Linked DNA regions of Homo sapiens. Each later gene encodes a partner of the first gene's protein in a complex. Links are inferred from orthologs where the notes say so. Each region holds a gene or a part of one and is shown on either strand. Other genes may lie near its edges. The genes, in order: HTR2C and DLG4.

Evidence for each region.
Region 2: the proteins of HTR2C (region 1) and DLG4 are in contact, whole or in part, in an NMR structure (PDB 2MHO), measured with the Rattus norvegicus proteins. The link is inferred for Homo sapiens from one-to-one orthologs. Residues at the interface, in NP_036897.2 of Rattus norvegicus: Val452, Val453, Ser454, Glu455, Arg456, Ile457, Ser459, Val460; in NP_062567.1 of Rattus norvegicus: Gly74, Leu75, Phe77, Ser78, Ile79, Ala80, Asn85, Pro86, His87, Ile88, Thr97, Lys98, His130, Val134, Leu137, Lys138.

Annotation. Positions count from the first base shown.
Region 1 is NC_000023.11:114,576,739-114,591,288, reverse strand, and holds the start of HTR2C (5-hydroxytryptamine receptor 2C isoform a precursor), read right to left. Parts: upstream 7,204-14,550; 5' UTR 6,630-7,203; intron 1,700-6,629; exon of another isoform or gene 1,304-1,699; intron 1-1,303. UniProt on the Homo sapiens protein: G-protein coupled receptor for 5-hydroxytryptamine (serotonin).
Region 2 is NC_000017.11:7,206,950-7,222,255, forward strand, and holds the start of DLG4 (disks large homolog 4), read right to left. Parts: upstream 10,679-15,306; 5' UTR 10,225-10,678; coding exon of another isoform or gene 10,199-10,224; coding exon 10,169-10,198; intron 1,291-10,168; coding exon 1,225-1,290; intron 323-1,224; exon of another isoform or gene 6-322; coding exon of another isoform or gene 1-5. Other genes in the region: ACADVL (very long-chain specific acyl-CoA dehydrogenase, mitochondrial), read left to right, coding at 10,197-10,224, 10,767-10,869, 13,173-13,248, 13,515-13,580, 13,655-13,727, 13,817-13,881, 13,975-14,109, 14,589-14,733 and 2 more. UniProt on the Homo sapiens protein: Postsynaptic scaffolding protein that plays a critical role in synaptogenesis and synaptic plasticity by providing a platform for the postsynaptic clustering of crucial synaptic proteins.

The DNA.
Region 1 (14,550 bases):
ACCAGATCTTCCTTGTTTTACTTCCTTCAAGAATGAAGTAATCAACTTCTTTCTGAATCTATTTTAGACTAACATTACATTTAAAACTAAAAGATACAGGCCTATTAGACCTCTGGGAGTCATTGACCAACCAAAAATGCTAGAACAATCTACCCACAAGCCACAAAGCATTAAATTAACTGTTTAATTAAGATAAAAAAAACTAATAGATTCATGACGTGATCACTCAGAGCAATTCATTAATACTAATGTCTGATTTCCTTTAACAGTATAAAAAGGAAGGAAATAAAGCTCTTATTTACAAGTTTATTTGCTGCAAAGGCATTTAGGAATTGCTATTTTAAAAAGAAAACTTGCGCTTCTTTCTGAGCCATCAACCCATACCGCAAAATGGGTGCAGAACTCAGTTTGCTAATAAAAAGAGAATTCTATAGCCATGCATGTGGTCAATGAAATGGTCTCTCTCTCATATATGTATATATAATGGTGTATTTCACTGTGAAATGGAAAATAAAACAGTGTGGTAGGGCTAAGCTTTAGCTAAACTAATTTAAGAAGATTTATAATATTTTTATTGCCCTAAAATATGTTCAGAGAAATTACCTGAAATCATTTCAGGGGAAACTGTTATTCTGTTAGATGCCTTGAATTCTTGAATATTATTGTGCAGATGTGCTAAAAATTCTATTTTAGCTCTTCCTTCATCTTCTTTCACCTTTACTTTAACCATTGGAATACAATACAATCAATCAAGATATGTTAACTGATTACCTACTATGGGCAAGGCACTTATCATATATGTGGGCTAGTCAACAAAAGCTTCCTGCAAGAGGTGGGGCTTGAAACGGACCTTGAAGATCAGACAGAATATAGATACATTTGGGAGAGAAAGCTACATACCACAGTACTGGACTTCTCCAATCTTTCTAGCAATAAATTCTTTTTTAATCACGGATCAGGTTTTTTGTCAATTTAAAATGGAAGTAAGAAATGGAAGTAATTGGTTTGGTTTTTGAATTTTTAAAAACCTACTTTTAAAAAGACTTTAATCATATTTAGAATTTTTCCAAGTATGGTCTTTCTACCCTGAAATAACTTTAGTCTAAGTATTGTACTCAGATATGGTTTTTCTACCTGGGCTCAGATCAGTAAACTAAAAAACTGGCAGTTACTTTTTATAGCACCTATTTTCCAAGTCATAGCTATCAAATTACTTTTCCTGACTCTAGTATGAAAAGGAAATACATGGCAAATGGGATCAGACAAGACTTGAAACCTTCCTGATATATGATAAATAATTTTTAACACAAACTCAAGATTTTATTGTCTTCATAATAAAACAAAAGATGACACTTAGAAATGGATCACTTGGACCTTTCTCTTCTTATCTCTTCCCAGTTCAAAATGCTTGCATCTTTTAATGGCAGCATTCTCTTAGATTTGCAGTTGGGATCAGTGCACTCAAGCCTTAGCACAATATTCTTTGTAGTTTTAGCTTTTTTCCGAAAAATTGGCTTAGTCTGCCCACCATATTCACTGCGCTGCCTGTCATAATGCTGCTTTCCCTGGGCATACAGAGAATCTTTGCCCTTCTTGTACTGTGTCGTTTTGTGGGGTTGGTGCTAGCCACACTTCTTTAAGTCTTGTGAGTTTTAGGAACATTCACCATGTTTTCGGGAGCACTATCGGTACGGAAAGAGATAAACGATTTTTACTGATCCTTCTGTCAGTCGGTCTTAGACCTTCAGAGCTTCTATTTTACTGCTTGAATTTCAAGTAGGCAATATTATATAAATGACAAATATGAATGGCCTTTGTTGTGGTGTTACATGTAGTAGAAACCTGTGGGTCCAACTCACAGTAGTAACATCTGCCTGTCCAGTCATCTCTACATACAATAGCATTATTTCCCTGACTTCATTTCTGTCTTTGTATTATCTCTGTAACTCCCCTGAGCTTCACTCAGCTTCTTGTCCCTCAGTCTCTCAGCATTAACAGTACATTCTCATTTGCTCTACTTCTTTATTGGTAGGTGAATCTCTAGATGAAATGTTGCATGTCTGTCTCATTGCCTTGCCAAGCAGCATATCGAGGATTAATGGACATTGTCCATTAATATCCTCACATTTACATGCAAATTTGTTCTGTTAAAAGACTAGTTGTTACAGTATGAAAGAAAAATTAGCCAATTTCTAAACAGAGGCAATAGTTTGTTGTTTAACACCACGGCCTCTGGAATAAAACTGCCTGGTTTCAAGCTTGGTTTTGTTCATTCAGTTTGAACAGATTAACCTCTTTGTATGCCTCAGTTTCCCTAACTGCAAACTGGATAATAGTAGTACCTTCTCATGGGGTAGTCATCAGGCTTGTATGGTTATATACCTGTAAACCTCTTAGAACTGTGTAGTGCATGGTAAATGTCAATAAATAGTGGCCACTGTTACCATCTTTTATACCTCTCCTCTTAAGAATAATTACTTGCTAATTTGGGCAAGTCTTACTACTTTGATTACAGGAAGCTATAATTGAAGAGTATTCAGTGAGTCTTGATTACTGAGATAAAATGGGAGATACGTAAGTTTAAAATACACTTGCAAAAGATTTGAACACTGACATTTATTCGTAAGCGTTTACTGATTAGTTTAAAGAAGACATCATGTTTTATGAAAAAGTAAAGGAAATCCTAGCCAATTCATTCATTGCTATCCTTGTCTAGATATTAGTTGACATTATCTTTGGTTTCAGTGGTGTTCAGTTTTCACTTTTTATTTTTACATTGAGCTCAACCCCACACCTTGCCATTAACGCTAATTCAACTCTGAATTTAAATACCCATATATGGTGGCTGTTGCACTGGACAATGCAGTTCTAAAGGCTTTCTAATAGCTTTCAATAAATTTATGCATAGTTCTTAATAGGTAATAATAACAGTATGTTACCCAAAGGTGTACTTGTATTTAAAGGAGACAGTGACTAAGATGAAAGAGGGAAATTCCTGAATGTAGAATTTCAAGTTATATGGAAAACCATGAAGGCTACTAATTTAGGGACCAGAAGGCCTTTCGAGTGCTTCTCAAATTAGACCATGTAAGTGGTCATCTATGCATAAGGTTAACCATAATTAAGAAGAATGACTGTTTCAAATGCCAGCTATATGTACAATGCTATAATACGCAACTATTTTAGGAAACTGCAGATGACACTGTCTTAGCCACAGCTGAGAAGAGGAATGAATAGCGAGGTTGAAGTAGAGATGCCAGGTAGGAGACAAAAACAGAATTAAAATTCCATCTTGTGTATATCTTATTTGAAATCCTGATTTCACTATGTCGTTTGTGCATTAAAATGTCAGAAGTGATTAGCAAAGAGTTGTTGCAGGTGAGCATTAGTATTAAATCTGCTAATGACTTGCCAAATGATGATGCAGCTTAACCACTTGGTTGTTTTCAATGTTGTTTGTCTAGAATGGAGATGACTAGACTGTCTTGCAGCAATGTTCTCAGTATATGAAAAAGCCTTCTTAAAATGTCTTGAAGAATGGCAGTGTTGGAGAGATCCATAACTTGAGCACACATTAGACTGGAGATTGATGATTTCTTTTTGAGGTTCAACAGTACAATATGTAGATGAAATGACATAGGTAGCCTAGAATGCTAACAAATAAATAATAAATGTTGCTTAGTGCAATAATTTAAAATTTTCAAAGTGCTTAATACCCATCTGTTTCACAACAATCAGGTGGGGTTATATATGATACTGACATAAAATATCACAATAATATATTATTAACTTCAATTTATGATGAAGTTTTCCTAGTTTGCTCATGGCTACCAGGCAGCTAGAGGAACATAATTTAGCAGTTCTTCCACTAGACAATACTAAGCTGTATCAGATGCTTTACTAAAATAATCTCAGTACACGTACATCATCCTTTTGTGAGGTATTCCATTGCTATGAAAGTGAGGTGGTAAGATGCTCCTTAATAATACTGGACAAATAGTCTGGAGCTTCAGGAGCCATTAAAACCTGGGAATTAATTTATCTTTCAGCAGGCTCAGCAAACTGCAACCTCCTTCAATCTCAGGCCTTGAACAATTTAATAAGAATAGCTGAGGATATTTAATGTTGGTTACTATAATCTCTCCCCCAAATTTTGTTTTAATTTTTGTGTTTCCCTTAGCTGGAGAGGGATGACGTTTCCTTGAAGGAAATACATGGAACAGTAAAATTATTGAGGCTTGACTCAATTATAATGTTGGATGAATCTATTAGAATGTTAGGCTTTTTAGATTTTACTTTTATTGCTCTTCCCAAGTAGACTTGGAAGCACAAATAAATATTTCTTATTCTCTTGCCTTAAATTAACTTTTGAGAATACCTTGAAAAATTGAGGGGAAAAATCTAATGGCACCGATAAAATGGAGGATAATAATATCTCCGTCATTCATAGACTTGCTATGAAGACTATATGAAATAATATATATTTTATGTATATATATGTAATAGTCCTGGATCCACGTCTGGCATCCAGGAGGTTCCCAGAAATATCAGTTCTCACCTCTTTTCTGATGAATTCATACTGCACAAAAGCCTGTTACATTATCTGAAAAAGTCATCACTGTCATCCATGACACCTCTAGATGGAGATAAACCCCTCAAGAAAGCATAGAAAGGGTTAATAACCCTCTCTAGATAATGCAGATAGAAAAACACCGTCATTTTTGCTAAAGCACCCCAAATCCTACCTTGACATTGCAATCAACAAGCCTTATCCACCTTCCGAATTTCAGGACTTGCGTTGGGCTTGTTGCTGTAGATGATAGACGCTATTAGGAAAGAAATCATGTTGATGAAACAAATATTTTCTTCCCTCCCCAGGAGGATCAGGAGAATTTATTTAAGGAATGAAAAATATAATTAAATATTCTATAACCTACCTCCCCAAAATATGGACAAAATTATTTATTTCCCCCCACCTGTGGGGTGGAATGGGGGGGCATTGTAGATGATTCCCAAACAGCCAGGTGCTAAGGAGATTATACTCTTCAGAACAGACAATATTCAGTATGATTTCAGTACTGCAAAAGAGATGCAATGATCACGGTAGATATCATTTTCTGTGGGGCATGTCAGTTGGCCTTTGTCATTGTCTCTACACATATGTAGCCAACTACACAGTAACACCTTGTTTCTATTGCACTCATATTTTGATTGTCAGAATGGCTGATATGTACGTAAACTTCTTCATGAAAAATTTAAACTCTGGAGCCCAGATATCTTTTTTCATTACCGTGTATGTGAGGTCGCAATTGTCTGCAAACTGGGGAGCTCAGAGGTTACTCAGTGCGCCGCATTTCCTCACCCCCCGCCCCCCAAATCATCTTAGCTCAACCATATATGAGCGTCCCTCGGTTAGCCTGCCTAAAAGGTATGAGGTAAGGGGCATATGCACTTAGTGGCTCAGCAATCAGAGGCTTCCTTGGATGGGACTTATACTGGTAATATTAATGAAGAAGCTGCGCGGTACTGGCAGTGATTCCAGACCAAATCTTTTAACTGCCGAATGTCACTCGCTGAATTATGAGTTGGGGAGCTCTGTTGCTTAAAATACAGGGTTCTCAAACACAATGCAAGTGTTTGTCACCTCAAGTCGCATACTACCCAACAGGAAGCAAAAGGCAAAGGGCATGGCGCAGAAAAGAAACAGACACACAGACACGTTTTGCAATGACGAACTTTATGTGACATCAGGAACGGCAACCTGTTCTCATGTTTAGCAATTCCGAGGAACGCTGTAAAGACTGCTTGTCAGGTAAAACTGAGTACAGGAATAAGAGGCAGCGCTGGAGACTTTTTCGCAATCCTTTTCAAAATATAGAACAGTAACCAAATGACTTAGATAAGCTAATTAATTATTTAAAAAAAGGTTCACTGGATGCCTTTATCCTCTCCTCTTAAGCTTACGTGATCACCAGCAGCGCTGTTCAAATTCAGCTAACAGCTGTTAGACCAAACACAGATCCGCAGTGTGTTATCTCCCCAGAGTTACGGATGTTCGCTGAGACCCGCCAGAAAAATTAGGGTCGCTTTTCAATGAGAACATAATAAAGGATCCTTGGTTCCCCCTCTGCACACACTGTCCCAAACCTTGCGCCCCCTCCCACTTGCCTGCTGTCGGATTTCTTAAAATTGTAGTCGGTCCTGCAACTCAGTTGCATCTTCCGCAGCCCGACCCTCTACTCAGCGACATTGCGTTCAGTTTCCCTCCTTTCTCTCCTCCCACTCCTCACTTCTTGAGACCCCACCCCCGCCTTCCGTTTCTGTCTCGGCTTCCCCCGCGCCAGGTTCTCTAGACCCCCGCCTCCGCCCAGCGTCTTCATCTCGAGCCCCCGCTCCCAATCCCCTTAGAGACTTCTATGCTCCTTCCGTGGAACCTAAGCTCCTCTCTTCTTCCAGAGACTCAGTCTCCTCGCGATTTGCGCGTTCAGAGTCCCTCCCCCCAACCTCCGCTAGGGCCAGTGCGGTCCTGCAGGCTGCAGCCATCCGGGACCTGTCCCCGCTCCCCACCCCATCCCCCGCCTAAATCGTTGGGGTCTCGGCTAGCAATGCCGCCCGGGGCTCCAACTTACCACTAGCGTCCGGGAGGAAGACCAGGCAGCGGTCGCCGCGGCGGCAGCTAGACGAGAAACGGACTCGGCTGCAATCGCCCAGCGGAGCCCGCGGCAGTCGGTGCGCTGAGCTGCGCTGCGCTGCGCGCCGCAACCTCGCGCCTCGGCGGAGGGAGAGGAATGGAGGGAGCTCGGCGCGATAGGAAGCGCCGGCGAGTCGACCTCCTTTGGGTGACCGTGCGCCCCCCGGCTAGGTTTGGCTCTTTTCGCTCCGCTATCTTACTCTAGCTTAGTAACTGACCACCTCCAGCATCTCTGCACTAATCGCGTCTTCTTTCTTCTTCGTTGGCCCCTAACTAACTACACTACTCTAAACGGACGAAGGCCATCACACGAGCGCCACGACGATCGCGACGACTCCGACGACAACGATGTACAGACAGAAGAAGAGTTCATATGCAATCGGCAGGTAAGGGGCAAGGCAGGCCAATGGAGCAGCCAAGGCTAGCAATCTAGCCGCTCCAAAGGCAGTATCGGGAAGATCGGTGCATCTGAGGAAGGAAGCGTCCTCGGCAAGCACCAGAGCGCCTACCTCGCGCGGGTGAATCTGCACCACGCTCTTGGGCCAAAAGCGGGATGAGGGGAGGAGCCAAGAGCAGCCAATCAGCACTCAGCATTACGTGGCCCCCGGGCCTGTTTGGACCGGTCTCTTAGTGCATCTGGAGCCTGCTGGCAGGGGGCGCGAGACCCCATGGTGGAGATGGGGGTGGGGGTGATGATTAATCTGATTCACAAGGCCTAGAGAGTAGGGGGAACCAGGATCAGCCATGGCACCGGATAGAGAGAGAGGGAAGGCTTTCTCAAGAATGTACCCTCAAAGATTCATAGCATACCCCTCCCCAAACACACACACACACACACACACACACCCCTGTACATTTCATTTCAACAAACAGCATTCTCAAGTCTTGCAAATTTCATCAAGCTTTGAAACTCCCTTCAAGGGTCTCTGTTCCGACTCTTGCCCATTCCTCCAACAGTAGCAACTGAGGCACTCACAGGGTCAAACATTTGGTGAGTGCGCAAAGGCCACAATCCTGTTATAAGGCCCACTTCCCCATCCTTGTCTCCCCATCCTTTCCCTAACCCCAAAGGAGAAAGAAAAGCTCTTGGCCTTCGAGCCCCGGGAAGGCACAGTTTAGTTCCTTTCTTGACCCCACAGGCCTCATTAGAAAGACACCTTGAGGGCAGCTCTTACGGGTTTCCAAGGGGGTGAACATATCTCTCTGGCACAGGGCCTTGGGCCCACAGCCAGTCGGTTGCCCAGTCGTTGTGGGGGAGGGAGGGGTGCTGTCAATGCAAGGTCAAGGCAGCAAGAGGTGAACCACAAAGGCTCTCTTTTGGCAACTGCTGGGATGCCGAGCTGCAACCGGTCAGGCAGAGCTCTAACCGGTCAGGCAGAGCTCTTTTTCACAGGCTCCCAGGCGCAACCGGGCAGGTGCCTGCGGTGTCCTGGCGGCAGCGCAGAGAAGGGTGAACGGGGCCCCCTTGGCTCAGAGGCACCAAAACCAAGCTGAGTAATGGAGATGATCCCACGGAGAATGGGGACAGAAGCAGATCTCTCCTAAGAGGGAACGAAGGGGCGAGCGGGGGTGGTGGTCTCGGGTCGCGGCCGAGGTTTCTCGGCCCTGTACCGAGGACCGGGGTGGGAAAAGTGGAGATTGGCTCCCCGCCTGTCGGAGGTAGCTGGACCGAAGCAAAAGATCGAGCCTCCGGTTTGGCTACTTAGGACCGGACGGCAGCGCAGCGAGTGTATAGAAGAGGCTACAGAGAGGCCGTACAGAGAGAGGCTTGGAGGACCTAACCCGGCAGAACGCAAAAGGGGTGGGAGCTGCCGGCTATTCTGAAGGCCGAAGTTTGCCTCAGTAGCCCCAAAAGTTAGAGATGGAGAAGGAAGTGGAAGCAATGATAAGGGTCAGGCCCCTTCCTTATTCTGGATGCCCTAGGAACAGTCATTTCTCTCTGTGCCTCTGTTTCCATATTTGTGAAAGGAGCTGTCCAGTCTATTCCAAAAGGGGCATTTTGGGAATCCTCTGATTCCCTCCATCGCCACTGAATTCAGGCTTTGAAATTTAATTTGGCAGTGAACATACTGTCGGCACCCAAGTTCTGTTTCGAAAAGCAAAAACCCATCGCAGTTTTCTTGAAGCATCTGTTGAATGCTGCTGTATGATGCCGCACAGGTGGCTGCGACAGCGCTGCCAAGTCCACCGACTGCACAACGCTCGCATCTTTAGAAATGCTTTGGTAGCGAACAGTAATTTATAAATATGGAAGAGAAAACGTATGTCTTCTCTTTAAATAATTAAGCACTCATCTTTAAAAACTCCCCAAGTGTCCCCTTACTCTATGAATGTGGAATGCTTAGTCTTGCCTTTTCTGGCGGGACTCGTATTTATTTTGTCAGAGGCTGAGACATTTATATTACTTCAAAAAATGTAAATATAAATCCCTGTGATATTTTTGCTAAGCCAAAATGGATCTGCCGAGCAGCGAGTGGAAGTTAGCATCCGCCAAAACCTGTTCTCGCTCCCCGGCTCCCGGGGGAACCGGCTTGGAGAAATTGACCATGATAATAGCAATTATGAGGATGAGGATGATGGTAATAATAGTTTTTATTATTATATATTTCGCTCTAAAGGCTGTTCTCTCCTTCTCCTTGTGAAAGGCAAAAGTGCCGAGAGCGACCAGGGGTGAAACCCACGTGGTCGTTGGGAAGGTTCCCGCAGCAGCAGAGAGAAAGTTTGCTAGCCACGCGGCTTGCTGAAGCACGTCTGGGCTTCGGAGGTCGGGTAGAAACAAGCAGGCACGTTAGCCTTTGAGCGGCGCTCGCCGAGCGGCCCAGAGCCTGTAAGACTGAGCCGGAGCGGTCCGCGGCGAGGCTCGGGGTACCGGGTTCCGCCGGGACCGAAGGCTCTGCTTTCTTGGCATTTGCGGCGCGTACTGCCTCTTCAGGTTCTCTAGGCTGCGGCTCGGCAGAGCGCTGCAAGGTCCGACGGACTTTGGAGATTTTGGCAACACCAGACCAGAGAATTTAGTGTAAGGAGAAATTTAGGGCGCACTTTAGGACTGGGGAAGCAAACTCAAAACAAGCACATGCTGGCGCTTTCTGTCGCTCTGTCATTGCCAGAGAGGTTTTCTGGAACCCCTGCCTAACGAGGCCTGGGGAGTCAGCCCAGGGTTTTCACTGCTTTCCTTTCCGTTCCTCAGGTGTATGGAAATTGTCCCTGGAAAGAGGAGTTATTTACAGTGAATTCCTCAGGTTTGATTAAAATCCCCAGTGCCCCCCGGAACACGGTTTCCAAATATTTCCCGGTTTCTAAGGCTGTGGACTTGTTTTTACAACTTTCGAACCGGGGCGATTTCCTCCTACTACAAATACATATGTTTCCAAAACTACTGATTTAGAAATTCGGGAAAGAATTAAAGAAGATTGTTACTACGTAGGAAAAAGTTCCTCATCATTTGAAACTTTGGGAACTTTTTAAAAAAATAAACTGACTAGAAAGTTTACTTCTCTACTCATTATTATTTCCCCCTCTTGACCAGAGAGCCCTATTTTAACACACCTAAAGGATGACAGACAGGTTTAAAAAATGAGTGACAGGATTCTAGCAAAATTCTCGAAGGCAGGTATTTTCACAGATCAAAAGAAGCTACACAAGAATTCTACCGGGAGTTTTTTTTTTTTTCTTATTTACCACCGGACATAAATGCAAGGAATTTTGATAATACTTCTACCCATATTTTTTCAGTTTTAAAGCAAATTATCATAGCCAGATATGTTTTTGGTAGTAATACAATTGTATCAAATTATATTTTCAGCATTCGCTATTACTACTTAATCGTAAAAACCCAGCATCAGATCCATAATGTCCATCGTTGAGGCATGCCACACCTAGAAATAAACTTTTATGACATCGAACACAATTGACTTTTCCCTTACTGTGCCTCAAACATGGTCATAGACTTAGAAAAAAATCTTAGACATAGATAGCTTATTATACACAGTCTTTTTAAAGTTGGTAGGATTATTTTTAATAAAAAAATAACGCAGTAGAACTCTGTGTGCTGTGTAGGAAGGCAGGGGGCAGTCTCTGATCGTGTCAGTCTCTGTAAGTGAAACTTCTGTTTGGAAAGATCTTCTGTTTTAGAGAAAAACAACAATCAACACTGGTTCTCTGACGCTCTCATTGAAGAGAAGAGAAAAATACTGGAAGCCTTTTGGGAGGGGGAGTTGGAAGTTCCCATTGAAGGGAAGAGAAAAAGACTGGAAGCCTTTTGGGAGGGGGAGTTGGAAGTTCCCATCACATATTTCTGCCACGTCTAAGGAAAAAAAAAGGTATATCACAATTAAAAATCTGTGCTTATTTCTTTTATGCAAAAAACCGTATTTAATTAATTTTATCTAACATCCTTCTAGTAATACAATATGTATTTTGTGTAGTTTCCAGTAACCAAGTATATGTTTGAAAAAATAGCAACATGCATGCAAGTTTGAATAGGGATTGGGAATGGAATCTTGTAGCCTCAAAAAGGAGAAAGAGCTAGGAGCTACTTTGACATCAGTTCTGTAGGGAAATATGTGTTGTCTTGGAGCGCATTCGTGTTATGACGAATGCATTTTGTATTATAGGCATGCATTTCACTCTTCCAGTTTAGGATAACAAAGATGGCAATTAGGACCTTTTATTTAAATTAAACTGAGATTGAAAGTCCAGGACTACAGTGATTTCTTGTTCATTCTTAGCTCAAGACTACTGGTCGCTGAAGCCCAGTAGTCTTGCTACCCATATATCTTACTCTGACTCTTTCAGACCATTATGATTTCTACTTCCCATTTCTGTAATAATTAGAGCTATAACCATGCAACCAAACATTTCCTTGTTTCGGAGTTATGTCTAAAGTAAAGTAATGGGCTTGGTTTCTCTGGTCTGTAAATCAATATCATTACATTATTTCAAATGAGTCGCAACATCACTCATTGCTACCGAATCCCTTCTTTTCTTTTTGTAAGAACTATTCCCTCAACCAAATTATAAGGATCTCAGGAGGAAGCATTTAACCATAAGCTTCTCTTCTCCTTTTTTCCACAACTATCCTAATACTTCGCACAAAGAATATAAGCAACAATGATAACTACCATTGTTGTTATGCAAGAGGTTAAGATGAATGGTCAAGAAGGGCTGGACTTCTAAAACTCGAATTTTTCAATGACCTGAATACAAATGTAAAAGATGTTTTACCAAATTGGCCCTTCATGCAAAAAGATCATGACAGTTTGAACCGACCAAGATGAAACTTAATAGTAATAAATAGTAATAAATGTGAGATGCTCAATTTGAGTATCAAACTTCTCTGCACAAATTTAGGTCACCGAAGCTGGGAACATTTGGTGAAAAAATACTTATTGATTTTAGTTGACATCAAGATCAACAAGCCTTCAGTGTGATCTGGTTGCTGGGAAACATAATTTTATATTGAGCTTTTGCAACTTTCATAAAAAGAGTCAAAATGCAGTTGGGCTATATACGGTATTTTCAGGCACATACTTTAAGAATGAAGATTGGAATTCATTTATCAGAATGATGGGAATTCATTCACAAGAATGTTCAGATCAGTAGAGTGCTGGAATCATGTTAGATGGGTTTGTATCATCTGGAAGACATGACTCTTGGGTTACATGCTAGCTGACTTCAAATATTCAAGGGATTTTCTTAAGGAAAGTGGATTTAATTTATTTCCCAAGTTTGTTATTCATGTCTTATTTGTATCTGTTACCTCAGTGTCTTGCACAATGTCTGACACAAACTAAGCATTCAATAAATATTTGTGAACTGAATGAAACTATAAACATTAAACTCTGAAGAGAATAAAACTGAATTTAATGAATCCACAGTTTCTGGCTCTAGAGGAGGATTTTATAGCATTCAGAACTATCCAAAGATGGCATAAGTTGTTTCAGGAGGTAGTTAGTTCTCCACTCTTGAGATGTTCAATGCTACAGAGGTTAATCTCTTGGTGGGGATGTTACAAAGGAGAACTATGTGTGAGGAAAGAGAAGAACACGTGGCTAATGAATGACATTTAAAGCTCTTTCCAATCCAAAATCTTGCACAATGAATAAATGCTATCTTAATCTAATTTTATGACATAAATAGATATTGAACTTTCTTAAAAACAGAGACAAAAAAAGTTATGTACTGCAGACTGGCCATATAGATTCAGCTTTGTCATAAGAAAGAAGCAGCCTCCTACCAAGTCACAAGACACTTTTGTTGAGCCTGTTGCACTTGATAGCTACTGACTTCGGTGGAAAATAATCTCTGGGAAGCTTATTATCATGTTAGTATACTATCACTCTTTACAAGTCTAGAATGCTACAGATGGTCCCCGACTTACGAAGATTAGACTTACAGTTTTCTGACATTAAGATGATGCGAAAGTGATACGTATTCAGTATGCTTCTTAACAATTTTCCTTTTTCCTCACCAACAAATTTGAAGGCCAAGTCTCTACACATTTCAAAGGCTGAAACAACAAAAGTTCATTTAAGATGATGTTTTAAAAACAAGTGATAGCAAATTCCCTGTCATCAAAAACTAAAGAAAAATAATATGGTAAATAAACATTTTCTTACCATATATACACATTTTATTTATAGACAAGTATAGAAATCTTTCATTTTCTCCAAGTGGAGCTTAATTTGAAGCAAAAGCCAATATAGTAATGACTAGATGCCTATTGTCATCTAATGGCAGCCCTGCAGTAGAAGTACCTGAGTAAAAGTTTATTTTCTGGCCTTTTGATTTTTGAATCAAAATTATTTTTACTGTTTATGCATCTTCTAGTCATTAGTAGGAAAATGATAGTAAACTTTTAATAGGTGATCTTGTAAGGGAGAGTAATGAATTCTTACTTGGTGATAGAGCAAAGCTGTGGGGCAAGATTTGCCAGAGAACACAACTTTGTTGGTCTTCCAATTTGACCAGCATTCTTCATCTACCAAGATAAGATTCAAAAATAAGCCTTTATCCTTTAGAGTGTCATACTCAATAATCAAGAAAAGCACTGATAAATCAGGGACTAGATAGTTTAGTCTATCATTGTTAATTTTGTCTATGCATTTTTTATTTCATTATGACCTCAAAAAAACCTTATTGTCAATATAACTTGGCTGAACTTCCAAAGATACAAGGACAGAGGTGAAAAAATGTAGAGAAGTACCTCTCATATTCTTTCAAGCCAAGCCACACAGTGGGAGCAGTATTACTATCGTCTGGTTTGATTACAAAGTATAATGGTTGAGTTATATCAGTAGTCCTGATATTTTGAGAGTTTTTAATTTTTTTAAAGTCTGTGATATCAAGTAATGTGGTATTCAGAACATTACAGTAAAACATACATCTAAAAATGGTTTGCCTTTCAAAGACTAGACATTTCAGTGACGCTATGATTCGTCAAAATATTTCTTAACATCTCTTTTGAAATTGCCTTCAGAATATGCCACATTGTTTTCAATTTTTGGCAAAAGTCTATGTCATTGAGAATTGTGTCTGGTGATTAACATTTTATGATCCGAATATTTTGTTGAATCAAGTGAAAGCACATGACCTTAAAACCCTCTGGAGGAACAACCAAAACAAAAACCAGTGTCTTGCTTATGTCATTCTTGACAGTGACAATTTACCCTGGAGTAGGTGAGAGTTTTCTTCCATTTGTTCTATCCTCTTATGTGTCTGCTCTAGTAGAAACTCAAAATGTAAGTTTGCCTGGAAGCTTGTGCACAACAAAGATAATATTTAAGGCAATATTTCAAAAACTGAAGCGAGAAAAATAGTATTTCCATGGAAGTACATGTCACCAATCTGGCTATTAACTG
Region 2 (15,306 bases), on another chromosome or scaffold:
CCCATCCTGTGTCCCCAGAAGAGGAGATGGAGGAAGGGGAAGATGGAAAGTGGACTGGAGAATGGAAGGTCCCAGAAACCAGGCCTCCCGGGACTGGAGAGAGGAGGACGCTGTGAGCAGAGAGGAGAAAGGGAAACAGGTGGTGGGGGATGATGGAGGGGGCAGAGGGGGATAGAAAGAAGATATGGCAGAGGTGAGAACCCAAGAGGATGAGAGAGGGGAGGAGGAAAAGAGGGAAGGTGAAGATGAATAGGCAAGAGGGAACATGGGAAAGGGGAGCTGGCTGATGGAGGGAGAGGACTGATGAGGGAAAGGACTGATCAGGCCCCAGCGGCCTGGGCTGGGGATCAGGGAGAGGGAGAGGAGAATGCGTGGGAGGAAGAGAGAGACAGCATCAAGAGCCAGCCAGCCAGCCAGCCAGCAGGGAGGAAAGGCTGCAGAGGGGGAAGAGAACTCAGGAGTGGAGCAAAGCTGGGGCAGGGGACGAGGCAGCAAGGCCCCACCATGTGAAGTCTCAGGCCAGACAGATGGAAAGAGCTGGAGACTTGGGGACAGGGCGAGCCAGGCCCAGAGGCGGAGGTAGGGGGAGGAGGCGGGGAAGGGACAAGAGCAAATGAGGGCAGCAGGCGCTTGGAACAGAGCTCTGGACACAGAAAATGGAAATGGAGGTTGGGGGTGTGAAGGAATGAAGAGGTCCCAGGCGTGGGGGCCTCTTGGGGGATGCACACACCTCAACACACACGCATACAGCACACGCACAGGCACACAAACGGCGCACGCACGCACACACACACACAGCACACACACAGGCACGCATGCATGCACACACGCACAGGCACACACACAGCACACGCGCACAGGCACGCGCGCACACACACATTCTTGCTTTAGGCTTTACATCCACTCCCATTGGCCTGGCCTGTTTCTCCTCTGTGGGACCAAGGTGTTTCCAGCCCCACAAACGCCCCCTCCCCCAGACCCCAGGAGCCCAAGCCCCAAACCCCCGCCCCCAGTCCCAGCATCCCCCTCCCCACGGCTCTCTCTCACCCTACCGGCCCTTAGGGATTGCTGCAGCTCCGAGGCTCCGAGGGCCGCACTGGGGAGGGGGCCACCAGGGTCTCCTACCTTGAAGGGGGAGAGGTGGGCGTGGCCCACGACCCCGTGGCCAGCCTCGAGGTGGGACAAGTTCCTCTCCGCCACGTGCACCAGCTCGGGGGCGTTTACCTGGTTGGGGAGGTGGGCCGGGCTGTGCTCCAGAGGGGGCGTGTCTTCATCTTGGTAGCGGTATTTCTGGGGATGGGGACGGAGGTGTCACTGGGGCCAGCCCGGTGCCTCAGGCTCCAGGCTGGCCGCCCTGGCCGCCGCCTCTTCCCCCAGCCAGTGCAGTGCGGAAGGCCCTGGGGCCTGACCAGCTCCTCCCCCTCCCTCTCCTCTAGCCCATTGGCTCCCCTCTCTCCACTCTCCCAACAGCCCCCTCTCCCGCCAGGGCCTCAGCACCTCTCATCAATCCCCAGGTCCCAATCCCATCCCCCAACTCCTACTCCTCACATCCTGGGACACTGGCCTTCTGGTGGGCATAGCCCCTCTGGCATCTGTGTCTTCACCCCTTTCCCCACCACCTTCATCTTCGAGTCCCTCCAGCTTCTCAGAGCTCTAGCCCCGACACTCACATCTCCATTCTCTGCCTCCAGTCCCCAACTTCCTTGCTTCTCTCACCATCTCAGACTCACTCTTGTTCTAGCCTCCCCTCCCCTACCCCTCTGGCTGCTCCTACTCTGCATGGCATCCTCCCCGCGCCCCACCTCCATGGCCTCAGTCTCCCCATTGCAGCCTCTACCCCACAGGTGATTGGCTCTCCTTTACCTTGCACTCCTTAGGCAAGGACTGAAGTCACCCCTTCCACCAGAAGGTACTTGGTATCAGCCCCCGAGACAGGACAAGGCTAAGCCTGTCCAGTTCACTGCCCTTGCTGGTTTCCAAGCAGTCAACAGAGGGGCCCCGGGAGTCTGGCCCTACCCCTGCAACAGCCCACAGCCCAGCCAGCTAATCCGGTTATGCTATAAGGGCATGGGCTGGGGGAGGAAGGGGAAGAACAGAGACAGCAGGGCTCAGGACAGGGGCAAGAATGGGTGCCAGCCTCCCTGGTTGGGGAGGAGGGTAGCATGCTGAGCCTCAGAGTGAATTTCTGGTCTCCCTCTGCTCTTTTGGGGTGAAAGGCCCAACATGACCCCTGACTCCCTGCCCAGTTAATCAGCTGCCATCCCAAGGGCCTCCTGTGCTAGCTTAATAGGGACAACAGTAAAATGAGATTAACTGGGGGCCAGAGAAGGAGGAAAAGGGCAGATGGAGACAGCAGAAGAAGACAGCGTTTCTGCCTGGGTCCTTCCGTGTCCGCCTCTGCCCTCGCCTGCTCCTCTCCTCTGGAACGGGCCTCCACAGAGACTGACCCTCCAAGCTCCAGGTTCAGGAAGGGGAAGGTATCATACGCAGGGATCCCTCAGGAACTGAAGAAGACAGAATGCACCGCCCAGTACACATGGGTAAAAAGAGAAGGCACGGCAATCCCAGCACTTTGGGAGGCTGAGGCAGGCAGACAGCTTGAGCCCAGGAGCTGGAGTTGGAGACCAGCCTGGGCAACACAGTGAAACCCTGTCTACAAAAAATACAAAAATTAGCCAGGCATGGTGGTGCACACCTGTAGTCCCAACTGCTAAGGAGGCTGAGGTGGGAGGATTGCTTGAGCCCAAGAGGTGGAGGCTGCAGTGAGCCATGATCACGCCACCGCACTCCAGCCTGGGCAACAGAGTAAGACCCTGTCTCAAAAAGAGAGAGAGGCCAGGAGCAGTGGCTGATGCTTATAATGCCGAGGTGGGTACATCACCTGAGGTCAGAGACCAGCCTGGCCAACATGGTGAAATCCCATCTCTACTAAAAATACAAAAATTAGCTGGGCGTGGTGGCACATGGCTGTAATCCTAGCTACATGGGAGGCTGAGGCAGGAGAATTGCTTGAACCTGGGAAGCGGAGGTTGCAGTGAGCCGAGATCATGCCACTGCACTCTAGCCTGGCGACAGAGTGAGACTCCATCTCCAAAACAAAAAAGAGAGAGGGCGAGCAGAATTTCCCTCCCAAAAGTTTCTGAGAGGCTGAGAGTGCCCTAATACTTAGAGGGCAGCAGCTGCGAGATCAAATGGGAGGAAGCTTATCAAGGTCAATGGCCAATCCTTGAGTAGGATTCTGAAAATGTTAAAGATGATGAATCAAGGCTGAGAATATAACACAACTTTGGCTGTAGAGTAAGGGTACAGTAAGAGAATGGGAGAAGGGAAGTGGTCCTGTCAGCACGAAAACTCTCAAACCCAGAACACAGAGACAACTCAAATCAAGAAGCACCCTGATACATTTAAAGAGTCTTAAAGAAGGAAAACGGGCTCAGCAAGATTGAGTCTATTCTCTGGGCCACAGACTTGGAGAGAATCCTGAACTCCAGATTTCAATCCGATGGGCACAAAAAGTAGAGAAGGAAAATAGGAGAACACACAAAATAGCCCTCCTCCAAGGCTGAGCTGTCTTGAATAAAGGAGTTCTATGAACCAACAGAGACTGTTCATTCCACATCCTGAGAAGGTGGTCTTCTACCTGGGCAGTGCACAAGCTGAGGGGCAAGCCCCAGAATTGAGACCTGGGGGAAGGGGTGGAAGCCGCTCTCCGCTATCCACTCTTCCTTCACAAGGCCTCCAATTCCCTGCAAGGTAAATTAGGACCAAAGCTCCAAGTTTTGGAGTCTGGGGGAGGGTTTGAGTCCAGTGCCTCTCCATCTTCACTCCACCTCAGAGAGAAAATTCCTGAATCTGAGGAGGAAATGTCAGCGTGCACCCAAAGAAAATGGAAACATGAGGAGGGCCATTTCATCATTTATTCTAGGGAGGAAATGAAGGTAAACTTTTATCTCAGCGAGCCCCCAATACCTCTCCCTGCCCCACCCCCATGGAGGGAGGGTGGTGTCTGGCACTGAAGAAAAGGCTCCTCAGGATTGGGAGGCAACATGGAGAAAATGGGGAACAAGAAATGGGTGCCAGGGTTTCCAGAATGTGGCTGGAAGAGGTTAGGGACTAGGTTCAGTCTCTGGAAATTTTCGACGTACATGTAGGGGGGCGGGGAGAAACGTCGGGAGGGGTGGGGGTGGGGGCGGGGGAGAGTAATTCTGAAACTGCAGACTGGGGGGCTGGGGCGGTGGGGGATCAGCACCTCTCAGTCTTGGATTACAGGGCAACTAAAGCAGGACGGGAAAGGAGGACCCCCCCCATCCTTTATCCTACTGGGACTCAGGGCCCTAACCCAGACAACTCAGATGCTACTGGGACATATCTGCACCCCCAATATATTAGGGCTTAAAACAAGTAAAAGGCCTGGGGAATGGGGGACACGGACGGAGTCGCTGTTGTTCCTTCCCCTTTGGCCCCCTCCTCACCAGAGCCCCAGTTGCACAGAATGACCTGGAACTGAGGCTTGCACCCCCAAAACATAGGGGTGTGAGTCAAAGTGAATGATAAGAGGGGCGACCCACGGCGCCTGTCCACGAGAAGTTGCAACCCAGAGACCCCGCACCAAGCAGAAGGAAGAGCGACAGCGCTTGAAGCTTGCACCCTGATATTTGCGGGGGTCCGGGAAGGGGGAGCGGGCCGGAGCCCATACCGCGGCACGTACCACGCAGAGACACATGGAGGCGAATCTGTTCCGAGCCGACATGGAGAAGGGGAGGGGGACTGAGGGAAGGGGGTAGGTGGGATATCAAGGGTCCCGGGGGTTGGGGGAGGGGGAGGGGCAGAGGGGCGGGGGCTGCGGCGGCCGCGGCAACTGGAGGCTGCGGCGGGGGGGGGGGGGGGGTGACGGCGCCTGCGCAGTAAGGAAGAGCGTCACGTTGGGAGAGAGGGGTGAGGGGAGACCCTCTTAGCCACCAACTTCCCTGGTTCACGCTGTTTCTCTGTGAACTTCACTTTCCACAGTATACTTCTATTCCGACCCCTCTACAATTAAAGACAGACTTAAATTTACCAGTTTATCTCTCTAGTTCTCAGGGACCCCTTATTCCATCCCATCTAATCCCCCAACCCCAACATCGCGAGACCCCAAACCATTCCAAAACCTCACTGGACATCTCGTCACTACTGGCCTCCCAGAGTCCAGGGAAACAAACAGCACTTCTCTCACAAGAACCCCCAAGGGATCTACACTGCCTCTCCCACCAAACCCCCGCAAGATTGGTGCTGTGGATAGCATCTCCTCAGATTCCAAGGCATCTCCTACTCTAACCAGCATAGTTCTCCCCTGCAGTCCAGCCCCACCTGATAGGCAGCCCATGTTTCTTCAAGAGTTTAAGGAACCACAGAGCCTTGTTGGCCCCCCAAATTAATATATGCTAAATCATCCCTTTCTATATCACATCTATCTCCCAATCCACTAACAGGGATGTTGCAATTAGTGCAAATATTACTCTTGCTCTAATATAAACATCCAAATAACAAGTCCTCTAATTTGTTGGGGATCCCCTGTCCAAACCCCCGAATCTAATAAGATACTCATGACTTCCTAATATGCCAGTCTCCAAATCCACACCAGAACCCAATTTCAGGAAATATTTAATCTACTTTAAAGCAGACCCTCCAAATTAAATAGCAATCTCGTCAATTTTTTCCAAAACTCTTATAAAAAGAAATGTAGACGGGAAGATCGCTGGAGGCCAGGTGCCCAACACCAGCTTGGGCAACATAGTGAGATCCCATCTCTAAAAAAAAAAATTTTGGCCTGGCACGGTGGCTCACACCTGTAATCCCAGCACTTTGGGAGGCCGAGGCGGTTGGATCATGAGGTCAGGCGTTCCAGACCAGCCTGGCCAAGATGGTGAAACCCCATCTCTACTAAAACTACAAAAATTAGCCGGGCGCGGTGGCAGGCGCCTGTAATCCTAGCTACTAGGGAGGCTGAGGCAGGAGGATGGCTTGAATCTGGGCAGCAGAGATTGCAGTGAGCCGAGATCGTGCCACTGCACTCTAGCCTAGGCGACAGAGTGAGACTCGGTCTCAAAAATTAATAATTAATTAATTAAAAGTATTTTCCTTTTCCTTTTCTTTTCTTTCTTTCTTTCTTTTTTTTTTTTTTTTTTTTGAGACAGATTCTCGCTCTGTTGCTCATGCTGGAGTGCAATGGCGCGATCTCGGCTTACTGCAACATCCGGCTCCCGGGTTCGAGTGATTCTCCTACCTCAACCTCCCGGATATCTGGCATTACAGGCGCCCGCCACTACGCCCGGCTAATTTTTTTGTATTTTTAGTAGAGACGGGGTATCGCCATGTTGGCCAGGCTGGTCTCGAACTCGTGACCTCACATGATCCGCGCGCCTCGGGCTCCCAAAGTGCTGGGATTACAGGTGTGAGCCACCGCACCCGGCACCTCCTCTCCTTTTCTTTACCCCTGAGGTTCATAGATTACACCCTTTTCTGTCTGCCCAGAACATCCCCTCCACGATTCTGAATTCCAACTTTGTCGGAAGATTGCTCCCAAATATATCTTCTCCACACTCAGGCCTCAAAAAATACACACCAAAGATACGGCCGGCAATCTGCAATGACCCACAAATCGTCCAGAACACTCCCAACCGCCTCCTTCAGGTCTCTTCAGAGATTTCCATTTTCTCCCAAACAACTTAACCTGAAAGCCTCTCTTCCAAATATTCTCCCATTGAACGCCCACCCTTCCAGCTCTTAAAACCCAGTGAGGGGTCTCCTCAAATCGGCTGACTTCTATAAAATGCCCATACATGGTAGAAATGACGACTTCCCTAGAATCTCACCCAAGCGAGATTGACCCCGTTGATCGGCATCTGTTACATGCGCCCCCAAGATGACCCCCAATGTCCTAGTTTCATATCTGGTAGGAAGGCTTGGATCACCAGAGGATCCAAGGAGTCAGTGCGGAAGGGGCTGGACTCAAATTTCCTTCTAGAATAGAAAACCTGCAGGCCCTGCTTATCCACCAGTGGGCGCCATGGCCCATAAAGACCCTTCCCCATCCCCCATTTCCCTTTTCCCTCCATTTTCCGTTTCTCTGTTGCCTGGCAACGCAGCAATCAAGGACTTTGCCGTCGCCTAGCAACCGTCTCCTGGGAACACAGAGCTGAGGTAGGAGGGGTGCTCTGATGAAATCTGAACAGACCTCCATCTTAGGAAAATTGAGACGTCAGACTTCCCAACCCCCGGATTCTCCTTTCCAAAGACCCCCGCGCCCTGAAGTTACTTGGACAATAGCTCCTCAAACCCTGTCTCCTTTACGCACGGGGGGCCACGCCACGCCCATCCCAGGTCAGCCCCGCCCTCATTTCGGTCAGGTAACCCAGCCCCAAGGTTCCTCCCCTTTCCGAAGGTTGCTGCCTCCCTCGATAGAGTAAGCCAGACCCCACCCACCTGCCCGGGAGGCCACGCCTCCGTCCACTTCCCGCCCGTTCGCTCCCCCTGCCTCGCCCACACTGTCCCTCCGCCACGCCCCTGACGGCCAATGAATGAGGCCGTCGGCCACACTGCCCCGCCCCCGGCATCTCGGCTTTGCCCAATAAGGACCACCCGGAGGGTTTAACCGCTTCGCTCCTGGGGCTCTGGCAAATAGCCTCAGTCTTTCCCCCACTGTATCCCCACCCCCACTTGTTCTGCTCCGCCTTCCGCCACCCTCGCCCGGCCCTCCAGTCCGCCACGCAGCTTCAGTCGTCGCCGGTTACCATGGCAACGGCGGCAGCAGCGCGGGGAAAGGGGGAGGGACGGGGGCGGAGTGGGAGAAAGAGATGCTCAGAGACGAGAGATTCTGGCAGAGATAAAGGCACCAAGAAAGACAAAGTGATCGCTGTAGAGTGGAGTTTGCACACAACACAGGGCCTAGCACGCAGTAGGCTTTCAATAAATGTTCCTTAAATTACTGCGGCAGGAGTCTAAATATAGGCAATGAAAGATGGAAGACTCAGGCAGAGCTGGGGAGCTCAACGACCGCAAAGCCTGAGCACTCCCTACCCCATCCAGCATTTGGGGAAGCAGGAGCCATGTGCCCCCTGCAGGCTCCTCTTGGGCTACCCTCCGCTGGCTGCCCTGGATAGAGATGAACCACAACTCCCAACAGCGCCATGGGCAGCAACCCTCTAACATTGAGGGATCTGGTGCCTCGGGGCCTTATGGGAGTTGGAGTCCCCACCATACCGAGGCTGACAAGTTTTCCAGCCAAGGAATGTGGCAAGCCTGGGTCTCCACGCCTCTGTAAACCCCAAATGCATGATCTGCTCTGTAAGCCTCCTTCCTTCAGGGATGCTCAACCCTGGGCTCCATGGAAGAAGTAGGAGTCTGGAGTGGGTAATGAATAAGGCCACCCACCCACCCAGAATAGCTGCCTGCTGGCAAGCCCCTCACCCTCGCTCCCATTTGTGTGTTCACGTGTTGGAAGCAGAGCCCACACATTCCAGCGGGCTTTCTATTTACACCTGGAATGCAGGGGACCACAGCCATGGAGCCTAAGGCCAAGTGACAGGCCTAAGGGCAGGAGACAGCGGGAGCAGAGGAAACCAGGCCAGAGAAACTGAGGCATAAAAATCCACCGAAACTACAGGGGATGTGGGGAAGAGGCAGCCTGGGAGAAAGCCCGAAACCCACAGAATGAAGGACAAGAAAGTCGCCCTGGTGGAGAGAGGGTGGGGGCTCCAGATCTAAAGGTCCTCAGCCCCCAATCTCTTCCAACCATCCTCACACGTGCACAATGCATGTGTACACACATGTGTGAGTTTGTGGCAGGGAACATGTGTGTCCTCAGCTCCCTCCCATGAAAAGCTGCAGTTCCCACTAAATATAACCCCCTCCCCAGCCTGTGACTCACCCGGACCCCGCCTCCCCCGGCCCCCACTTCCTGTCCCACCCCCCAGCCCCCAGCTGCCTGCCACCCGCCCAAGCCTCCCTCCACACACCAGGCATCCAGCTCTCCAGTCCCAGAGTCTCCAAGGAGAGCCTAGGTATCTGCATCCCACCAGGAGCTCGCCTGTGCTCCATCCGAGATCTCCTGCCTTTGCCAGGCTCCAACCAGAGGGACACTCTTGCACAGATCCCCATCGCTGCCAGCCCTGCCCTCCTCCTACACCTTTTCACCCCAGTAACCTCAGTAACTTCGGTCATAAGCCCTCAGGGACCCTTAAATCCAGGTGTCCTCCCCCACCTTGATCCCAAGCGTCAGGGGTATCTGGAACAGTCCCCACATCTGCTCTTCTCCCTCTCTCTTGATCAGGGCTAGATACAGTGTGGGAGGAGATGGGGATATTGGGCACCTGCCTTTGGGCCACCCCCAAATTGTGCACCACCCACCCGGTCCCCCTCCTCAAATCCCCTCTCTCCCTAAGCCTCTCATCCTCCTCCTCAGGGGCTGGCAAGCTCGGCTGCTGCAATCTTCTGCCTCCTATGGGAGTACCCCCAAATCCTTGCCTCACCTGGTCCATTCCCTCAGGTGATCCCATGCCAGGGCCCCAGCCCTCTGACAACTTCCAACTACCTCCATTCTATATGACTGAACCCTAAATTAACAGTTCCCTCAAATTGAGAGAGCATCCCTAAATGCAGCCACCACGAGATGCTTGTTCTAGAGTCTGAAGGCCCACCCCTTCCCTGCCAGCTGACACCCCCAGATCAGTCAGGCACTCACAACCAATAACCTTTACCCCATGCCAGGAGCCCCCCAAAACTGGACAAGGCCCTTGGAAGCCAGCTTTTCCCTGGGGAGGAAAGAGGAACCCCCCAACATAGCCCACCTTCCCACATACACCAGCAGGACTCCCTTATGAGCCAGGCTTCTCCTTAAATAAGTCTCCCTCAAACAGCGCTGATGAACCCCCAAACCCGCCAGGCCCCCCGAACCATGGAATATCCTAAATTTTCCATATCCCTACAGGTACAAAGGGATCACTCCAGGGGGCACCTGTGGCCAAATCCTGCATTTTCTCAGATGTGAACCCCAAAACTAAATTAAGACCCCCAAATACATCTTACTTCTGATGCTGCCACTCCAGGGGCGCCAGTCCCAGATAAGGCCTACTAACCCCTCCCCACAAACTCATACCCTCCCCCCAGTTTATAGCCCCCCCATCATGCTTACCTTGGTTGTCACTATACAGAGACAGTCCATGTTGGGGGGCCTGGCCGCGGCGGCGGGTAAGGGGCTCTGACTTCATCGGAGTTTCGTTCCTCCCCTCCGTGGGTTCTCACCCCTCCCCCCTCCGCACCCCACTTTTGCAGGGGGGGCCAGGATGGGGGGAGGGGTGAGAGGGGAAGGAGGGGGTTGGAGAAGGGAAGGGGAGGGGAGCGTGGGAGGGAGGGGAAGGGGGCCCTAAAAGGGGCTCCCCAGTGGAGGGGAGGGGGCTTGGGGAGCACACCCCGATTCTCAGGAGGGGCGGGGGCACCGGGGGCTGGCAGCCCCGGAGTTCGGGGGCTGGGGCATGAGCTGGGGTGGGGGAGGGGAACTGGATTTCGGGGAGCCCCGGGGTAGGGGGGGGTCTTGCCAAACGGCCAGGGGCTAGGGGCCGTGGCGGGGGAGTGGGGTGGGGGGGTTGGAAACGGCAGCGGCCGAGGGAGCCGTGGAGCCGAAGAGGGAAGGGGAGAGAGGAGGAGAGAGGAAGCAGGGGGAGGGAGGGAGGGAGCTAGGAGCCAGAATGGGGGGGGTGCCTTGGCAGAGTTAACTCCTTCTGTGCTGGCAGGAACCCGGATAATGGGAAAGGAGATAGAAGCAGAAGCACAGAGGCCCCTGAGGCAAACATGGAGACCTGGCCAGCCACCAGCGATGACAGCAAAGACGATGAGGCTGGATTTCATTTCTTAGAGAAGGAAGCATCTATAGTTGGGCTGGGAGCACCCACGGTTATTTGAATACGGGAGGGAGGCCTCTCGGCAGGCGGTAGGGGGTCGGGTGTGAGGGAGGAGCTGAAGGAGGCAATCCCTGGGGGCCTAGTTCTCCCTCAGGTTTCTCAGGGGGAAACCTAAAAAGTTAAGCCCTAGACTCTTTAGTGCCTGAAACTGGGGCAGCCAAAGAAAACGAGGAAGAAAGGGAGAGTGGGTACAGGACCACAGAGAGTGCATTCTCGGTGCCCCAAGTCCCTGGGCCACTGACTCAGGCTTTTGTCAGCAGGGCCCCCAAGATTCCAGGTAATATTAGTGATATTTGGCTCACCCCTCCAGCCCTGCCTGCCCCTCAGGAAGTTAGGCGCTCGCCCCCACCTCCTTACCTGACTCTCTGAGAGGGAAGCCTCATAATAGTCCAGGATGTCTGTCACAGGAACAGAACTGAGTTACCTCCCCACCCCAGGCCTCTCCAGGCACATCACCCCTGTCATCACCGCTGCTGGCTGGCTGGCAAGGGAGGAGCCCTTTCAGCCAAGGCTGGTCCACACTCATGGAGGACACCATAGGCAGGACCCTGCATGGTGCTCCAGCTTGGACCAAATGATCTCTGGGCTCCCAAACAGCCCCCGAAGTTCAGTAATGGCCCTTGGAGGCCCAGGTCCCTCAGAAAACGGGCTACTCACCCAGCAAGGCCTGGAAGAGGTCGCTATGCAGCACTGTGAGGAGTGGGGGTGCCCACCGCAGCAGTGGGGGTGCCAGGAGCCAGAGGGCTGACCTGGGAGCTAGTGAGATGCAAGGAGAATTGGGACAGGGAAGATGCCAACACAGGAAGATGAACACACTGTCACTTCATCTCCCCAGACTGTGCCCTTCACCCCAGCCCCTACGGAAAGATTTGGGGAGAAGGATCTCCGAGCCCCAGCCCCCCACTTCGCTCCCAGACCTCCCCTCCACAAGGAGCCCTGTTTTTCACCTCTTGGTCTCTGGGACATCTCTCTCTTCTCTCACTTTAATCTCCCTAATCCTCCAGGATTGGAGTTGAGCTGCTTCTCCCCACTAAATTCCAGCTGTGAGTAAAGTAGGCCGTCTCTGAGCCGACCAGCTGTCCCATTCCCCCAGGTCCCAAGGCACCAGCACCGCCACCATCTTGCTCCACACACCCTGGCCCCCTCTTCCCATAGGCAGGCAGAACCTAGCCACGCTCTCCTGAGAAGCCAGCAAAGAGGGCCTCCTCACAGAGGGCTCCAGCAGCTCAAAAAGAAGCTGAGCCCAGCTCTCTCTCCTCCTGGGCCTCCTCTCACCCCAATGAGAATTGCAGAAAAAGGGGTAGAAATTGTTTGGGACTTCCTGCCCTAGGGCTAGAGAAGTTGGGGTTTTACGGGTAAGAGGCAGGAGAATTCCTGCAGTTCCTCTCAGGCCCGGGAGGAATCCATCTGCCTGGGCACATGGTCTCTGGAAGGAACAGAGGGCAAAGACAGAAGGGAATGTTCAGGAAGGTCTCAGAGGCTTTACTAAGGGAGGGGCAGTGAATCTGGGGGGGTCTTCCTACTGTGAAACTGTAGCTGTTCCAAGAGTTAGTGAATGGCCTACATCTCAGAAGAATACACTTAGGGTACTCACACCCTAGCTTGGGTGCCCCCCACCACTGTACCCTCCCTTTTGTGTTGGCCGAGATAGATTTCATCAGGAACCCTAGAGTCTGTCTTTCCATGTCTCTGCCTCTGCCATCTACCTTACACTTCTCTTTCCCTACTTTTCCCTTCTAACCCCACCGGAGAAGCCCTCCCTTCAGTCCACCTCCATCCCTCTGGCTGCAGTGACTTAAGCCCCTTCCTCTTCTGTCCCATCCTATCCCATCACCCCGTCGGAGGACTAGACTCTAGGTCGGACGGGCGGGATTAAGGAGTTTGGGGGAGACGAGGGACGCTTGGAGATCCCTCTAAGTCAGCGGAACGCAGGGCCGGGCTCCAGGGAACTACAGCTCCCAGCATGCCCCGGGGCCCGCAACCGTCCGCCGCCCGGTGCACTGTGGACGATGAGTCAGGGTTAGGGGCGCCAGGACGTGGGCGTGCAGGACGCCAGAGCTGGGTCAGAGCTCGAGCCAGCGGCGCCCGGAGAGATTCGGAGATGCAGGCGGCTCGGATGGCCGCGAGCTTGGGGCGGCAGCTGCTGAGGCTCGGGGGCGGAAGGTCTGTGTGTGACAAGAGGGACGGTGGGCAGCGGCCCTGGGCACCGGGCCGGCACTGAACCCCCACTCCCCACAGCTCGCGGCTCACGGCGCTCCTGGGGCAGCCCCGGCCCGGCCCTGCCCGGCGGCCCTATGCCGGGGGTGCCGCTCAGGTAAGTCACCGCAGCCTTGGCAAGGGGGTGTGGGAGCGGCGGTCCGCTTCGGCGCCCGCCATCGGCAGGGATCTCCCTCTTGGTGCCAGGTACCTGCCTACTGCTCAGTCGCCGAAAGTAGGGGAAAGGGCAAGCCAGGGTGCCCTAGGGCGAAACTAGGGGAAAGGTCACCGCTTCGCGCCGCCTCCCCGCGCGGCTCTCGCCTGTTCTCCCCTTGACACAGCGGAAGTCCCTTCCCTGAACTTGCTAACCGTCTCTTTTCCCAGCTGGCTCTGGACAAGTCAGATTCCCACCCCTCTGACGCTCTGACCAGGAAAAAACCGGCCAAGGCGGTAGGTAGCCCCGAGGCCAGGTGGACCTTAGCCAGACCCAACCAGAGCCCTGAAATTTGCCTCTCTCTGCCCAGGAATCTAAGTCCTTTGCTGTGGGAATGTTCAAAGGCCAGCTCACCACAGATCAGGTGTTCCCATACCCGTCCGGTAAGGGAAGGGATAATCAGAGCTGGGTGGGGCCAGGGTGGTTTCCCCTGCCAGCCTGGCCTGACCAGCCTGTCCCCCACCCTCTGCAGTGCTCAACGAAGAGCAGACACAGTTTCTTAAAGAGCTGGTGGAGCCTGTGTCCCGTTTCTTCGAGGTAAGGAATGACTCGGGGCTTGGTCCCTGGTGAGGTGTTTGGAGATGTTAAGCTCAAAAGGAGCCTGGATGTGGGATCCTGTGCCTTCCCCAGGAAGTGAACGATCCCGCCAAGAATGACGCTCTGGAGATGGTGGAGGAGACCACTTGGCAGGGCCTCAAGGAGCTGGGGGCCTTTGGTCTGCAAGTGCCCAGTGAGCTGGGTGGTGTGGGCCTTTGCAACACCCAGGTGAGGGCGCCCTATCGCCACATCCCAGTATGCCATACCCCAGCTTGGCAGACTCAGCTCTTTTGCCATAGACCTAGAGACTAGGGCTAAGGTCTCTTCTAAGCACCTGCCCTGGGTGCCTGTGGGATGGATGTTAACTGTCCAAACATAACACAATTTACATGCAGTCCCCTAGGCCTGAGCCATGGGCCTCACCCTGGTTCCCAAGTCCTTACAAATCTCTAAGTTGGGGATTGCCTAACAATAGACTGACTAGTAGCAAGTCACCCTCCTACCTAGACCTAAGACAGACCAGCATTCTCTGCTGTGCCCTTTGCACACCCCACTTCTTTTCTACACACTGGGGATGGCCCAGGTCAGGCACTGCCCTAGGTCAGGAACTGCCCTAGGTCAGGAACTGCCCTGTTGCCCACACTCTCCTGTTAAGGTCAGGTCCCCCTGCAGCCAGTGACAACCCCAGATTCCTGCTTCCCCTCCAGTACGCCCGTTTGGTGGAGATCGTGGGCATGCATGACCTTGGCGTGGGCATTACCCTGGGGGCCCATCAGAGCATCGGTTTCAAAGGCATCCTGCTCTTTGGCACAAAGGCCCAGAAAGAAAAATACCTCCCCAAGCTGGCATCTGGTGAGGCAACCCTAGGAGAGCCAGGGATTGGGGGGCACACTGGGCTTGGCACAGATTAGGCCAGTTGGCACTTAGATTATCAGATGGCTGAGCATTTCAGTTGGGGGAAGGTTTTGGGGAGGCATCACAGTGTGCTGGTTGGGACATGCAAAAGAACTGGATACTCCCAGGTGTTAAGGGGGAACTGCCTGCTGGAGGGATGGGGAAGTGGGCCGAGGGGACTTTGAAGCTCATCAGAACTTGGGGTAAAGTAGCTCTCTCCCCAACAGGGGAGACTGTGGCCGCTTTCTGTCTAACCGAGCCCTCAAGCGGGTCAGATGCAGCCTCCATCCGAACCTCTGCTGTGCCCAGCCCCTGTGGAAAATACTATACCCTCAATGGAAGCAAGCTTTGGATCAGGCAACCTGCCTCCCATTTCTCCCCTTCTCCTCCGCCCAATTCCAGGCCCCACTGCTCCCCGTCCTCCACGCCCTGAATATCCCATTCTTCCACAGTAATGGGGGCCTAGCAGACATCTTCACGGTCTTTGCCAAGACACCAGTTACAGATCCAGCCACAGGAGCCGTGAAGGAG